Regions from separate parts of the Homo sapiens genome. Here region 1 is linked to region 2. A link means that fine-mapping ties the variant in region 2 to the expression of a gene that starts in the linked region. Tissue or cell type: tibial nerve. Region 2 holds a variant in brackets; the other region holds the start of a gene. All regions are shown on one strand. Distances are from middle to middle.

The links. PIP is the estimated chance that this variant, and not a neighbour inherited with it, causes the effect.
Region 1: LHCGR starts here. The variant in region 2 is fine-mapped to the expression of LHCGR in tibial nerve (GTEx, PIP above 0.99).

What each region holds. Positions count from the first base shown.
Region 1 is chr2:48,751,991-48,760,116 of GRCh38, reverse strand. It overlaps LHCGR (luteinizing hormone/choriogonadotropin receptor), which reads left to right and starts at 4,393. Exons shown (of 11, transcript NM_000233.4): 1 at 4,393-4,606. The coding sequence starts at 4,446. The region is part of intron 10 of STON1-GTF2A1L (STON1-GTF2A1L readthrough); the gene reads right to left. RefSeq lists an enhancer at 4,059-4,835.
Region 2 is chr2:48,803,149-48,811,274 of GRCh38, reverse strand. It overlaps LOC105374594 (a long non-coding RNA gene), which reads right to left. Exons shown (of 4, transcript XR_001739460.2): 2 at 3,576-3,615; 3 at 2,006-2,157; 4 at 1-1,708. Among named protein-coding and RNA genes, the nearest start is that of LHCGR, 51 kb to the right of the region's middle. The variant A/G (reference allele first, on the strand shown) is at 4,988.

The DNA.
Region 1 (8,126 bases), 51 kb after region 2:
TGTTGCCAGCACAAACAGGCTTTTTCCATGAGACAAGAAGGACAGCAGCCCCTAATTCATTCACATCCTTCCAGCAACATGACCAAAAAGGCAAGGCCCCTTCTCCAACTCTCTCTCTCCATCAGCCTTAGAGTAGGATTCTCATGCCCCAGACCAATCATCACATTCCAATTACCAGCCCAGCTTCCTATCATCCTGCAGCTTCAAACTCCTGCTGAGGCCCACAAGAACCCCAGGGCTGTGTGGGAGGTGGCACAGATGATCGCAGCTCTGATTTTACATTATGTAGACAGTGAAATGGAGATGAAAATTCTAAACAAGCAATAAAGAATTTGCATGAAATTTTGGAGTGTAACTTTCATGGACTGTCTTTTTTATTCTCCTTATTTTGTTTTGTTTAGTTTTTTTACCCCAGGTAAAAAGGTGAACAGCTCAGAGATGTAACTGTATTTTTCTCTTCTTAAGCAATTTTTTCTTCCTCTGCCTACATTCACCTTTTCTTCCAAGGGAAAGGTAAAACCACTGCTTTTAAGTGAGAAGAAATACCAGTTATTATACTAACAGGGTATGTGTTCAATAATCAAAAAACCTTGCCTATTCTACTTAAGGTTTTAAAAATTACTTTGCTAATCCCATTACTGGGAATACCCAAAGGATTATGAATCGTTCTACTATAAAGACACATGCACATGTATGTTTATTGCAGCACTATTTACAAGAGCAAAGACTTGGAACCAACCCAAATGCCCATCAATGATAGACTGGATAAAGAAAATGTGGCTCATATACACCATGGAATACTATGCAGCCATAAAAAAGAGTTTATGTCCTTTGCAGGGACATGGATGAAGCTGGAAGCCATCATTCTCAGCAAGCTAACACAGGAACAGAAAACCAAACACCACATGTTCTCACTCATAAGTGGGAGTTGAACAATGAAAACACATGGACACAGGGAGGGGAACATCACACACTGGGGCCTGTTGGGGGATGGGGGGCAAGGGGAGGGAGAGCATTAGGACAAATACCTAATGCATGCGGGGTTTAAAACCTAGATGGCGGGTTGATAGGTGCAGCAAACCACCATGGCCCAGGTATGTCCATGTAACAAACCTGCACGTTCTGCACATGTATCCCAGAACTTAAAGTAAAAATTTTTTTAAAAATTACTTTGCTAATGTCTTTCAACTCCAATGTGTTAATGTAACTTCAGATGCTATTGAGTTTTGACCTAGGGTGGCATAAAGAAAATAGATTCCATGATTTTGCAACATGGCTCATTCCATAAATAAATAAATAAATTTCAGCAATATAACCAATTAAATAATTTTAGACATTTAAACACAGGTATACAGAATATACTATTTCTATGCTTATACATATCAAGGTTTCTTTTAAGATGCATCAAAATTATTAGGCTTCACTCAAAGTCCTTAATAAAGATTCTTGAGCTTTGTTTTCTTCAGGCAAATTTAATTCTAGGATTACCATTTTTGTATTCCTCAAATTGTGCTCTAGGACTACATGCATCAAAATTACACGAGAAAGCTTGTTAAAATGCAGATTATTGGACCCCACTCTATATCTATGGAATCAGAATCTCATAGGGAAAGTTCTAGGAATCTTCGTATTTAAAGCTTTGCAAATGGTATTTCTGCACCCTAAAATATGAGAAGCTCCATTCTAAAACTTTGGAGAGTTTTAATTGCAATTTCTGAGTTACGGTGTCAGTATGTTTTTCTATCTCTAAAGTAGGATAAAATATTTGTGAATTCTGTGAACTTTATTTTGTCATTAAAATGTAATCAGCAATCTTTGTGGGTCATGTTGGTTTGAAGTTCTCTGACAAAGTAGCTATAAGCATAGTTAATGAAACAAAGTCCTTTGGATTTAAAAATACTCACTCATAATGAGTATTAATGAATAAGATAGGTAAATTCCATTGTAACAAACTTTTGTGATTATAACAAATGAATCAATATGATTTTATTATAATAGTTACATTGCAAGAACTGATGTGATAATTAAGATCCAACTGAAATTAATCTAGATAGTAAAATTTTATGAAAACTCATTACAGTTGTTAGCTTTCTTCCAAACGAACAACCTCAACTCCTCATAAACAGGATTTTATTTCCAATCCAAGACAAGTTATAAGAAGTCAATATATACAATCCAATTCCTCCCACTAGCAATTCTGTAGGAGCTGCTTAGAAAGTCCTTGCATCTTTAGAGCCAGAAGAGCCTTAGGGATAGTGAACTTCAACCCTTCTTCTTACAGATGAAGAGACTGAAGGGCAAATCTCATGATTGACAGCAGAAACAGAAGGAAAATCCTAGTGTTCTGATTGCCTAGTCCTCCTACTGGAGTACAGAATTAAATGATTCTTCTGGAATATCCATTGTTTTCAAAGATTCAGGGGTGGGTGGGAGCAAACTTTTTTTATATATAACAGGTACACTACAGGGTTAAAAAAAGAAAAAAGTCACATAAAACATGAGACTTGAAAGAAAAGCCATTCAGGCACCTTGAGTTATTCATTCTTTCTCTCCTTCCATTCAAGATACATGGTGAAAACTTTTAAAAATCCCAGTGCCTACCCCAACTTCCCTACCAAAATCTGACAAAACTAAAAGAGAACAGAGAACATGACACCCAAAGTCGTCATGTATAATTACTTTTTACATATCCAGATAGATCCAGCGTGGTTGAGAATAAAGCAAGTGAGGGTATCAAGCTCTTCTCAGATAGTTTACTGAGCATCTACTACAAATCTGGGCCTCACTTATTCACTCTATTATTCAACAGACACATATGGAACACCTACTAGGAGCTAGAAGCTATGACATGCTCTGTTGATATTGAGATGAATAGAGAGGGGAAAGCAAAATTAAACCCACAATTACAGTGTGTTAGATTACCTGCTGTAGAACCAGGTGTTATGGCCACAACTACTCAACTAGGATGACTCAGAGAAGAATCAAAGTGGAAATGACATTGGGCTGAGTCTTGAAGGACAACTGGGAGTTTATCTAATGGAATAATGGAAAAAGAAGAGAAAATAGTGGGGACAGCCCATGCAGAGGTATTAAAGGGTGAGGAGTCATCTATAAGCAGTTGAAGAGAGGATCCAGAGAAGACAATATTATAGACATGAGCATTGTTTTTGTGCCATCTAGCACAATGTGGCCAAAGCCAAACAAGTTTTTAAAATAATAATAATCTACCCTCCTTGAGCAACAGACTGTAGAATGGTGAATGAAGGAGCCCATCCTTGAGAACTGGCTTCAGAGTGAAAGAAATCTATTCTTATATTTCCTCTCTTCAAAGCCTTAAATGCCTTCCCAGCTTTCAAAGTCCACCTCTTCCAGCAAAACTGCTAGGATTTCCAGAATCCAAACAGAATCCTTGGAAGGAAGAAATGATCAAATCAAAGAGGGGATATTATGGATCCCCATGATTACCGTAAAATTTTGTCTCCTAAGTTCTTTGGTATGTAGATCATAGCAGCTTTTTGCATTGGTGAGAGGTGGTAGGTGATAGACATGAGTTCCAGGTTTCACTACTTTAAAACCGTGTGACTTCAGGGAAGCCACATACCTCTTGGGACATTTTTCTCATCGCAAACACCCTGCTAGTTCAATGTGGAGCTTAAACATGATGTGAGGCAGAGCACCTGTTACAAGGTCTAGCCTATCCTGGGCCTTCTATGGGGCAGCTGCTACCAGTATTAGGCAGTTTCATTCATTCATTCAACAAATCTTTACTGAGGACTTACCATGTAGAAGCCAGAAGGAATACAAAAATAAATCTGAATTGGATTTTGCTCTCAAGGACCTCCCAATCTATAGAAGAGATACAGGACCAAGCCAAATAGCTATACCATAAATAAGAAAGCATTTACCACCAAGAGAAATTACTGGGGTAGTTGGGAGGATGGGCAAAGATTACTTGTAGAGTGGAGGGATTTGGTGAAAGAGAAGGGGAAAGGATTAGGGGTTGAGGATAAAAGAGAGGAAAAATGTCTGAGCCAGGCACTCTTACGCCTTCTGATGTGGGTATAGCGAGTATCCATCGGACCCTTTCACAAATGAAATAAAAGGGGTTCCGGGAAGCGTCACAACTCACTCAATTCAGAACTCCCCACCTCTAATCCAAAACATTTGCCATTAAATCTCTTTACCTCCTATAGCTAGGGCCATTTGCAGATGGTAGGGGACAAGACAGGGGAAAGTAGCAGGAAGGAGGTTATTGGGTCACTGGGCACTGTCGCAGGTCAAGGCAGAGCAGACTCAGCGGGGTGCGCGGTAAGAGGGGGAGGGCAGGGGCGGGCCGGCAGGGAAGGGTGTGTGGAAGGGCAGCCAAGGGGCGGGGAGAGGGGTGCGGGCCGCACTCAGAGGCCGTCCAAGACACTGGCAAGCCGCAGAAGCCCAGTTCGCCGGCCATGAAGCAGCGGTTCTCGGCGCTGCAGCTGCTGAAGCTGCTGCTGCTGCTGCAGCCGCCGCTGCCACGAGCGCTGCGCGAGGCGCTCTGCCCTGAGCCCTGCAACTGCGTGCCCGACGGCGCCCTGCGCTGCCCCGGCCCCACGGCCGGTCTCACTCGACTGTGAGTACACAGCGCTCCCGTCGCGGCGCCCTTGATGCAGGACCCTCCATCGCTCTATGCCACCTTCCCTCCCTACTCCTTTGGCCCCCTTTCCCTGGAAGCTTGGAGAAAAACGCTTTGCCCTATCAAATTTCCCCCACGTTTTAGGGTGATGAGAACCCAAAACTTGGTGGTTGTTTTTACCACCCCATGCCTCTGAGAGCCCCAGCCCCATTCTTTACCCCTGGTTGGGGCTGTGGCCGGGGGAGTAGAACTATTCAGGAACCTCAGGGGAAGGCCTGCTCTCTGCCGCTGCTTGAAGGGAATATGGGTGTGACGCTCCTCAACTCCTCTGGCAGGGGTCTCTGCCAGAGAAGTCTTACAGGCCTTTGAGCCTTGGGCCAGCCACGTCAGGGAAGGTGAATGTGAGCTCTGGCACCCTGTGGTCCTCTAGGAATGGAGTGCTCAGGCCCTATGGCCAAGGGTGACCTAATCTGTCAACTGACTGCTGGCAGTCACACGGGCATCTTAGTGAGCACACAAGCCGCTGCTCCACCGTGCCCAGATGTGCTTGAACTTCAGTCTCATGGTCTAATGGACCAAAGGCCCTGTGCCCTGCCGCTGGCACCCGCGCACCACCTCCACACTCACAGGCCTGATTGAGGGATTGTATACATCAGCAACCTGGGGGAGGGCGTTGTTTCTGGAGTAATGGGGTAAAGAGGAGAAGGGGAGCCTTTAGTACTAGACTATCAGGGTGTCATCAGGTCTCCTTTCTCCTATTTAGAAAAAAAAGTACCACATATTTTATAATACTATTTACATGAAATGTCCAGATAAACTGAAAGTAGATTAGTAGTTACCAGGGCTGGGGAAGCGGATGGGAGGGACAGTAGGTGACTACTAATCAGTGGGTATGGGCTTGGGGCGGGGGGGTGGTGAAATTTTTGTAAAATTAGATTGTAGAGACAGTTGCGTGTGAACATATTAAAAACAATTGCATTGTCCACTTTAAATTCTATAGTGTAGGATTTACATCTCAATACAGCTGTGAAAAGAGAAAAGGAAAGAAAAGAAAGGGAAAAAAAGACAAAAGACAAGAGTATCTAAAAGGCTGGTAGAGGTCTTGATCATGTCCTAACAATTAGAGATGATGGAATTCTGTGCTGGGGAAGGAAGGAGACCACCCCCTCTGCCATTTCCTTTGAGCCCCCAACAGTCTGTCACGGGCTGTTTCATAGAGGAGACTCACCCTCCCTGCCAGGCCAGGCTTCTTCATGTGGAAAAGTTAAAGGCCTTCTGGGAATAATTGTGGTTGAGAGATACAGTTAAAGGGTTGAGGGGTTTATATTAATTAGTTTCCATTAATTATCTTGTCAGGTCCATTCCCTGAAGGAATGGACCATGCTGATAGAATTTGTTTCAATCAATCCACAAATCCATGCAACAGGCCTTCCAAGTTCCAGCCCTGGTCCGTCCCTGACAAGCATGCCATGTTGCTCTTAAGAATGACTGTACTACTAACAGACTTTCTCACTTGCCTGCTACTTATCATACAGATTAGAAGAAACTGAGATCCAAGGAGAAGGAATAACTTGCTCAAGGTCTCACAGCTATTGAATAGCAATTCAGGATTTTATCTATTAATTATCTTTTTAAATTTGCTCATCTTTGTAAGAAAAACTACTGCTTTCTTAATAAAACACACACACACACACACACACACTCAGTTTCTCCAAAATTAGTACTGAGCAAAGAACTCCCACTGGGGGCATGAATGGGTGGGCCAAGTCCCAGTTCCTTTTCAATTCAGCTTTTCAGTAAGATCTCTCAAGGGCTCCTGCTGCCACGTGCTGTTCTCAGGAGGGGACCCCCTTCCCTGGAAAAGGCTGAAGTAAATTTTTTTTAAAAATCCCACTTTCTCCTGCTGCCTTTCAGCAGGGTTTCAAGAATCCTAGAACCCCTCAAAAATATCTGATAGGGCTGACTAGGTTTGGGGGTAGAGACCCTGAGCATCCACCACCAGGAACATCCTCTGCCAGTCATTTAGCCTCCTTAGCCAAGCGTGGTGACCCTCACAAGGTTTCATTTCCTGAGCACCAGATGGTTGAGAGATGCCCTCATCTTTCAAGAGATGCCCTTGTCACTCTGTGGAGGTTGAGCCTATGCAGGCCAAAACAGGGTAACTTTTGGCACAACATAGTGACACCAACATCCATATGACAAGAGAGGTGCATGTTAAGCAAAGGGAGGGTTGTTACTTCAAGGCAATATTTCTCAAAGTATGGTCTTAGCTCAGCAGTATGAACATCACCTGGGAAATGTTAGACTGCATATTCTCAGGCCTCAGCCCCAACCTACTGAATCAGAAACTCCAGGGGTGGGGTCCAGCAGGCTACAGATTAACAAGCTCCTCAGGTGATTCTGATGCATACTAAAGTTTGAGAACCAAGGCACAGCTCTCCAGGGAGGTATCATCTTAGAGAGGAAAAAGTATATTTTAAAAGTCCTTGTGCCATACACTTCCCTTCCCCACCCCCCCCCCCCCCCGCCAAAATCCGGCATAACACCTATTTATTGCAAAAAGGCATAAAATCAAAATCCTAAACCCAGAGGCAGACGGAAAATAAGCAGAATTGAGGGAAGTTTTTTTTTTCCTCAAAGAGGACTGCAGGAAGGAATCCATGGAGGACAGACTGAAGATACAGGGAATGAGGGAGGAATGTTAATTGTCAGATCTCAATGGGGGTAGGAGGAGAGCATCAGTCTAACAACATGGGGGAAAGATTAACCTTAGAAAGAATAAGAAGTTTTGAGTCCTGAGGTAAGAAGACCTATGGGTAAAGGAATAACTCAATATTAAGACAAAGGACAGGAAAAGTGGACAGGTTCATACTGAAATCCTCTTTTCTTGATGATGAATGCATGAAATGATAAACAGTAATTATGAGACAGAAAACTGCTATGATGGCAAGTTATCAGTTCATAAAAAAAAAAAAAAAGAAAGCTTAAATTATGAGGTAAGTCTTCCAGGAGGAGAGGATGTGGTCTTGCACTACATTATCATAGACTTTGCCTCTGCAGAGAGAAGGGGAGCACTCCAAGTTCTCAGGGTTGGAGGAGGCAAGTACTGCAGAGCACCTTAGGATTCAGCATTAGTCCCTCAATAGATGTTAATTTATGCTTTAGTCATTTGGGGTCCTAGTAACCTTACCTTCTAAGACCTCCATCCAAAGTTCACTATTTGGTTTAAGAAGAAGAAAAAAAACAAGGTACATGGATTATAGCTGCTTATCACTGACAAGCCTGCTGCTTACAAATTTTGAAAATGGCATCGTTCAAATTTTTCCTCCCCTTTCATATTTTATGAAAAACATAGGTATTTAAAATCTAAAATGTGATACAAAATATAACCTCCCACATTTCACTCACTTTAATTGGGGAAAAAATGAAAGAAAAAACTGATTTAAAAAATTTCCTTTCCTTTCTTATTAGTTCTAGGCAACTGGAAAGAGGAGAAAAAAATCTCACCTTGCCCATG
Region 2 (8,126 bases):
CTACATTAGAAGATAAGGTTGAAGAAATATTTCTAAAATTAGAACAAAAAGGCATAGGTAGAAGATAAAAGAGAAAATAGAGTCAATCCAGAAGATCAAATCCAATATCAGATTTACATAAGTTCTAGAAATCAGTACAGAAGGTCAGAGGAAAGAAAACAATCAAAGAAGTAATACAAAGAACTTTCTGGAACTAAAATACATGAGTCTCCAGATTGAAATGGCCTAGTAAATATCCTGTAAAATAAACAAAAAAAAGGCACAAACCATCCCCATGAAATTCCAGAACAATGGAGATTAGAGAAGATGCTTAAAGCTTCCAGACAAACAAAAAAAGCAGGTAAGAATAGCATCCTATTTCTTAAAAGCAGCAGAAGCTAAAAGAAGATGCCTACAAAATTCTGAGGGAAAATACTCTCCAGCCAAGAATTCTATGCCAGCCAAATCATGAATCAAGTAAGAAGGTCAGATAAAGATATTTCTAGACATGCTCAATCTTTTTTTAAAAAAATAGAAAATTGCCCATGTATTCTTTTTTAGAAAGCTTCAGCCAAATGTGTTCCAACCAAACAACTGAGAAAACCAGGAAAGAAGGAGACATGAGGATCAAGAATAGGGACTCCAACACAGGAAAGAGGTCAAAAGAATCTTAAGATGATAACTGGGCAGCAAACTGAGATAGCAGCTCGTCCACATTTGGAGTAGTTGACTAGAGGCTCCCAGGGAGATGTCTCCTACAGGAATAAAGGAACTATTTGATTACTTCATGTGTTTAAATGGAGTAAAACGAGTTTTACAGCTTTAGTGAAATATATGGGAATGAATTATTGATAGATACATAGAAAACTAAGCAAATGATACAGGAAGTCAATTAATGATTCCAAGGAAAAGTTGCAAAAGAAAAAAATGAAGTTGTAGAACACTATGTCTCAGCTGTAAATAATATTGACAAAGTCAAGATGAACAAAAATAGTGGCTTCGCTATATTGAGAGACAGAAGGAGAGACATTAAGACATTAAGGAAGTGTATAAAAGGAGTTATTTAAGAGAGCAAAATCATCATCCTTTTATTTTACCTAGTTAGCTAAACAGCAAAGAAAAGCAGCTAAGAGTTGAAAGTGGTTCCCTACCAGAGACAGAATCAGGATGAGCAGGCATGAGACAAGGAACTACTGATTTGTGTAAACCAAGTTAATTAAGATACCAGTAGCAGGGAACTGGACTAACGGTGGCTTACTATGTGAGGATACTTGTTGTTTACTTTTTCAAAAAATGTACAGAAATAGATGGGCTTGGAAGCTCAGTGACATCACTGAGGACTCATTGCTTTCCAGCTTTCTGCTCCACCATCCTCAGTGTGTTGCTTTTCAACCTTGTTCACTCAGGGCTGCAAGGTGGCTGCCACAGATGCAAACATTGTGTTCACAGGCAGATCATGGGAGACAGATTGCCCGTGACTGAGCAAGAAAGTTGTCTTCATGTAACTCTTCCCTCTCATTAGTGAATCAGTTAGGATTAGTTTTGATAATGAGTGATAGGGACCCAAAATTAGAATGTCTAGAGCAAGGCAAAATCTTGTTCTCGCCACTCTAGAGGAGGTAGGTTGTCCAGGATTGGTATGAGGTTTACTTACTCTGTGATCCCTTCAGAAAACAAGCCTCCATCTCTCTTGTCATTCTACTAGTCACAGCTTCCTTTCTCAAGGTGACTTCATAGTTCCAGAAGGTTACAGCAGCTCCAGCCATCATGTCAACATTACAGCCAGCAGGATGGAGGAATGAGGAATAAAAAGGACACATGAGAGCTTTCTTTTGACGAAATTTCCTGAAAGCTGCCACAAAACACTTTTGCTTATATCCTACTGGCCAGGATTTAGTCACAAAGCCACAACTAGCTAGAAAAGACACTGGAAAATGCAGTATTTATTCCTAGTAGCCATATGCACAGCTAAAACTTAAAAGTTCTAAAAAAAAAAAAAAAAAGGGAAGAACAAAATAACAGATACCTGGCAGTCTTCACCACAATTAGAAAGGAAAATATCTTTCCTGGAAGACCCTGAGTAGAGTCCACCTTACATCTCGTTAGCCGAAACTGGGTCACATGGCCACCTCTGCCTATGAGAGAGGCTGGTGATGGGAGAATCTGGACTTTCATCCTCTGCAGTAGAAAGCAAGCAACAGAGACAGGGGTTGAGAATGGCTGCAAATAGCCAAACAAGTGCCTGCCTCACAAATCTTGTAGCACAATTTGACCTTAAAGCTATATACACATATTACTTTTATGTTTTAATGTCTATAAATTTTAAAATGTATATAAATAACAAATAAGTAAATTTGTTTTTATGGGAAAACTTGTCAAGATCTGCTGCCACACTCCCTCCATCTTCTTAGTGAATAAATAAAAGAAAAAAGTTACAAAGTCAAAATACATACACACAAATAATAGCAATGGCTATTCATATAGTCTGTTTATGTCATGCTTTGCCACATTGATTCTGTCATTTATTCAACAAACATTTATTGAATGCTTGCTATGTACAAAGGTATATGGACATGACTGAGTCTCAGTTCATGCCTTCAAAAAGGTCACAGGTTTGAAGGAGAGAGACACAAAGCCCATTTTTTACAATACGGCATGACAAGCACTAGGTTGGAGGATTGCAGGGGATGACAATTGCAACAACCCAGAGAAGGGCCATTGAAGTTGGCCCAGCAGACAGGGGAGGCTTCCCTGAGGAGGTAATTTTTGAGCTGTTTTGAAAGATAGGCAGAAATGTGCCAGGAGATGAAAAGGGCATGGAAAGGACATCAAGCCACAGAAGAATGAACACAAAGGCATGCATCACATTATAGCTAGGAAGAATAAGCCACATTATTACCCTGTCTATCACAGATATGAACAGGTAAGCATGCAATTTACATTTAACAAACATTTGGTAGAGTGAATCAAGAGGAATAGCAACTCTCTTAATCTACTTCAGCTTAACTAGTACTCTAGATCAGGAGTTGGCAAACTATGGCCCTCAGGCCAAATCCCATCTGCTGCCTGTTTTTGGAAACAAAGTTTTATTGGGATATAACTACACTCATTCATTTACACATTGTCTAGGGCTGCTTTTGTGCTATGATGGAAGAGTTGAGTAGTTGGCCATAGAAACTGTAGAGTCTTGCAAAGCCTAAAACATGTACTACGTGGTCCTTTATGGAAAAAGTTTGCTAACCCCTATTCTAGATGAGCTGATATCCTTCATTCCCTTTAAAACATACAGCACTCTGAGCTCAAAGCTAACAAGTAATAAATAATAATATATCCTTGCATCCCACCAATTTAGTTATATTCTTTCCAAGAGTAAATTGTTCCCAAATGTGTTTTGTCAGTTTCATGTGTTGATGTAAATATCTAATTCAATAAAATATTGTGTATATTAATAAAATGAGTGTGAAAAGGAAGAATGTTTCTATTTTAAAAATTAAGCAGAATACATTGAAAAATATCCATCACACCATGCTAATAAAAGTTATCAGTGAGTCAGATGTGAATGAGACAACTATAATTATAAAATATTAAGATTTTACCTTGCAAGTGTGTATAACTTTCACTCCATGTTTTAAAACCCTAAAATTAGAAATCAGAGATGATGCATTTAGGGGAGATGTTTATACAAGAAAGACAACACAAAATTACGATTAGCAATACATCCTTAGAGAGCAGTCTTGGCTCAACATCAACTGACAGGAGTTCCCCTAAAAACTCAGATTAAAATTAAACTAAATATTTTAAGTAAGTAAGTGAGTGATTAAGCAAATAGTATGTAGATAAATATTAATGTATATTTACTGGATTCTTTTTAAAATGATTCCATGACTTAACCAACTCTTTACTGTAAGGAGAGGAAAAGACAAAGTAACTGTGTTTGTTTGTGTGAACAGAGACATAAGATTTCAACTCCCTAAATTTTCTGGGGCCCATCTTGTTCTGCAAGACTCATCTCTCAACCAACCACTGCCTTGACCCCAAAAGGGGTCCAGCCTATGGGCACCCATTGCTGCCCAGTGCCAGCTCCTGAGAAAGTCAGACAAACAGGACTCAGACCTCACACTCCTGGCTCTGGATCAGAAAGGAAGAATGAGCTGACACTGGCCCCATGATGAGCAGAAATTAATTACCAGGTTAGCCTGTGAAAATGTCAACTCATTAAATCCCCAAAGTGCGACATCTAAGCTCTGACAAGCGATCTAGGAAATAAAATGGAAAAAAATAAAACAGCCCCTCTTCCTTACAAGTTACACAAATTCAAAGTTCAGAAAACTTTTTCTTTGGTCTCTTTGCCCGTCACCTCATAGAACCTTGGATCCACCTTTAATCTGGAGCTTCAAACAAATCCCTGCTTCCTTAGGGCTCTAAAAATAATTGTGTTCCTTGTGGTACATTAACTCTTTTCAAAAGAATAGTCAAATTGCTCATAAAACAGCTGGTTATTTTCTCAAGATCCTTGATTAAACCTTGTTTTTTCAGAGAAGCCTATTTGGTTTTTTTCTAGCTAATTTCCCCTCTGCCCCCAAAGGCTATCCCTTCCAGAGAAAGAAAAAATGCTTCTTATTCAGTTTTCCATCCTGGAATCACAGCGGTGAGCAATGTGACATCAGATATGGCATTAAGAAATCTTGAGCCCACCAGGAAGCTCCCTAAAGAAGGGCCATGTTCTCCAGAGTCATCCTGGGCTCTCAGGCTCTCCACCACCACCAAGGACAGAGCTATGCAGGCAGGAGATGCCCCAAAAACACACACTGAAGATGAGGAACAAACAATGATGAAAAATCCAGGACCCAGACTCCATATAAACCTGCCCTCCAACTAAGTCAGTTTCCAAAGACATCATTCTTCCTCTTTCTAAACCTCTGCCCACATTGTTTGCCCCCACCTCCATCCCCAAATTTCCAATGCAGGTCACATTTCACCTTTTCTTCAAAATCTTTTCTTAATACTA[A/G]GTGGGGCCCTCTGACATTCTCCCTGCCTCACCCATCTATCACTATTTGGTATGAACATTTATTGTGATCATTGGCTTAAATTCAATCCAGCACTATTTTCTATTCTGTCTTCTAGATTCCAACTTACCCATGTCACATCTGAGAGCAAGGCCGTGCCTTATTCCTCCTTTTTCTCTTGCATTGTATTCAGCAAAACAAAGTATTTTGCAAAACATGTTTTCTTTTCCTTCTCACTTACCTACCGTCTTTTCACAGCCCCCAAATAGCAACCAGTGTCCTTTGAGTGGAAGCCCTACTTGGGCCAATTCCTTAAGCATAGGAACCATATGAATACAAAGCTTCCAAAATGCTTCGTACTAGGAGTCCATGAATTAACAACCCCAGAATCTCATATTCTATGCCATAACATAATTATGTTTGCTTATGAATAGAGGAAACAAAATTGCCCTCTCAAACTCAGGTGTAGTGGGCAGTCTGTATGGTGGTATTCACCTTACAGACTGGTATTCATGCCCTTGTACAATTTCCTGTCTTTGTATATGACCTGTACCTACCAACTTACTTCTAATTAATAGACTGTGGCAGAGCCATGGAATGCCATTTTCGAGATTAGGTTACAAAAAGACTATGCCCCTGTATTAGTCTCTCTTTCTCTCTCCCCACACCTTGCCTTTTCTTTTCCCCAGTCTATCCCCCTCTCTTCTCCCTCTGTCTCTGTCTGTCTGTCTGTCTGTCTGTCTCTGTCTCTCTCCCTCTCTCAGCCTTTTCTCTAAGGTAATCAAGTTGCTATGTTGTGAGTAATAGCTCTGTGGAGAGGTCCACAGAGCAAGGAAATGAGGTCTCCAGTCAATATCCAGAGAAGACTTGAGGCCTGATACATGACTGAGCTTGGAAACAGATCTTCCCCCAGTCAAACTTTGAGATGACTTCAGTCCCAGCTGACACATTGATTGCAATCTTATGAGAAACCATGAGCCAGCGACATCTAACTAAACATTCAGTTTTGTTTTGTTTTGTGACAGGATTTTACTCTGTCGGCCAGGTTGCAATGCAGTGGGGCAATATCAGCTCACTGCAATCTCCGCCTTCCAGGCTCAAGTGATCCTCCCACCTCAGCCTCCCTAGCAGCTGGGACTACAGGCACATGTCACCACCCCTGGCTGATTTTTTTTTTTTTTTTTTTTTTCTGGTGGAGACGAGGTTTCACCATGTAGCCCAGGCTGGTCTTGAACTCCTGAGCTCGAGCAATCCACCCACCTCAGCCTCCCAAAGTCCTGGGATTACAGGGTTTGGTATTTTAAGACACCAAATTTTGGGGTACACAGCAATAAATAACCAATACACCAAGTTTTCCACAAACATTAGATTTTTTTTCTGCAAAACTAAATCTAATGTAGGCCCCCTCCTCTCTATGCCAGATTGGCAAGAAATTATCTTATTCAATCCTGTAACTCTATATGCACATCTATATCTCCCAGAGTACTATCAAAGTCTCAGGGTATTTGGGACAGGGTATTTGAGGAAGGGCCTTCAGTCCTTGGTTTGTACTGGTTACCACTACTAGGCTCATTGCCCAGCTGTGCATGGCCCTTGGAGTTAGCGGGTGAAGAAGCTCCACACATTCCCTGCCAAGCCTCTGCTCTACCACTGGGACTTTTGCTGAGGCTAGAGCCCAGCACTCAAGGCCAGCCTACCCTCTGCAGTTCTCAGTTGCCAATCAGGGATAGGGGCATCCGGGCCCCTCATAGCCCTGCATCCCTTCCCAGGCTTCTCAGAATCTCCTTTCTCTGTCAGTTCCAACTCTTTTCTTCACATCTCTCCATCCCTGCATATACATACACATGCCCTTACACAATTTCAAAGAGTTTAGAGTTTTGAGAAAGCCTGAAAGATAATTATCTTCAAGCTGCTACTGCAACAAGAACACAATGGCCTTCTCAGAATTCAGGAAAATTTTTAAAAAAAATTGTTCTCATTCTTTCTGATGCTTCCACGCCCTCAACCAAAATACAAATTAAGGTTTCAATAAATAATCTCACTGCACTTATTTTCCCCACATATTCAAGAAGAGATTTATGCTCCAAAAAGGGTTGCCATGTTTACCCTAAGGTTTGTAATACCTTCCAGCACTCTGCAGTGAACCACCACCTACCACCTCCCAACACACACCACCACACACACAGCACTGTAAGCAGCTCAATAATGGTGGAATGAGAGACTTCCTAGTAGGAACCTACTTCTTCCAAATCTCCCTCACTCTATTAAAGAATAGCCCAAGCAACCAGCCACAAGGCAGGCATCATGCAGGCATAATTGGAATAAGCTTCTACTAATTGTGTGTGATTTAAGTTGAACCAGGGAAGTCTCTCAGACACAAAATATCTTCCTAGTGGCCTGTAACAATCACTAAACTTCATTTTTAGAGCCTGGCTCATTTGGGTTTAAAGCATTGTTACTCCAAAGTTAAATTATCTATTATGCTACTTTTAGCCAGGAGCACCTTCTTGGAATTTAGCTTATCAGTTCTTTTCTAAGAGTCAGCTTATTGAAAAAAAGAGTGGGTTCTGCTATAAATGGAGGAAGAGGAATAAAGAGGTTTTGAACAGCAGCAGTGAAGGCATCTTGACTGCTCGAGGCAGTCATTGGGAGTGGGATGAGTAGAAAAATGCTCCTTATTACTGTAAATGTGTCACGACTATTGGGGTTATAATACATTATATTCTGTTATGGTTACTCCATGAAGACTGATTTTTCTATGAAGGCCTCCCCTGTAACTAGATACGGCCTCATGAAGGGTCATTGTTAGTGTTCAGTAATAAAGGTATACGCTAATGTACGAGAAGAAACCAGAAATGAAAGATCTAGACATCAGAGTCTAGATGTCTGGGTGGATATCCATAGGTGGTATGTACAAAGATAATGTCCTCCCCATAAAGAGAGACCAGGCTGGGTCTCTTCCCAAAGATACCTGAAGAATACGGTAGGAACTGTCTGCACTCAAAAAAGATCTATTTATAAAGAAAATTTCATAGTGTTCTTTGTATGGTAGTTACTTGACCCTCAGCTTGTGAGAGACCAAATCAGTTGAGCAACTGCCTGAAATGTCCCTCTTGAAGGGGCTACAACACTGCCAGAAAT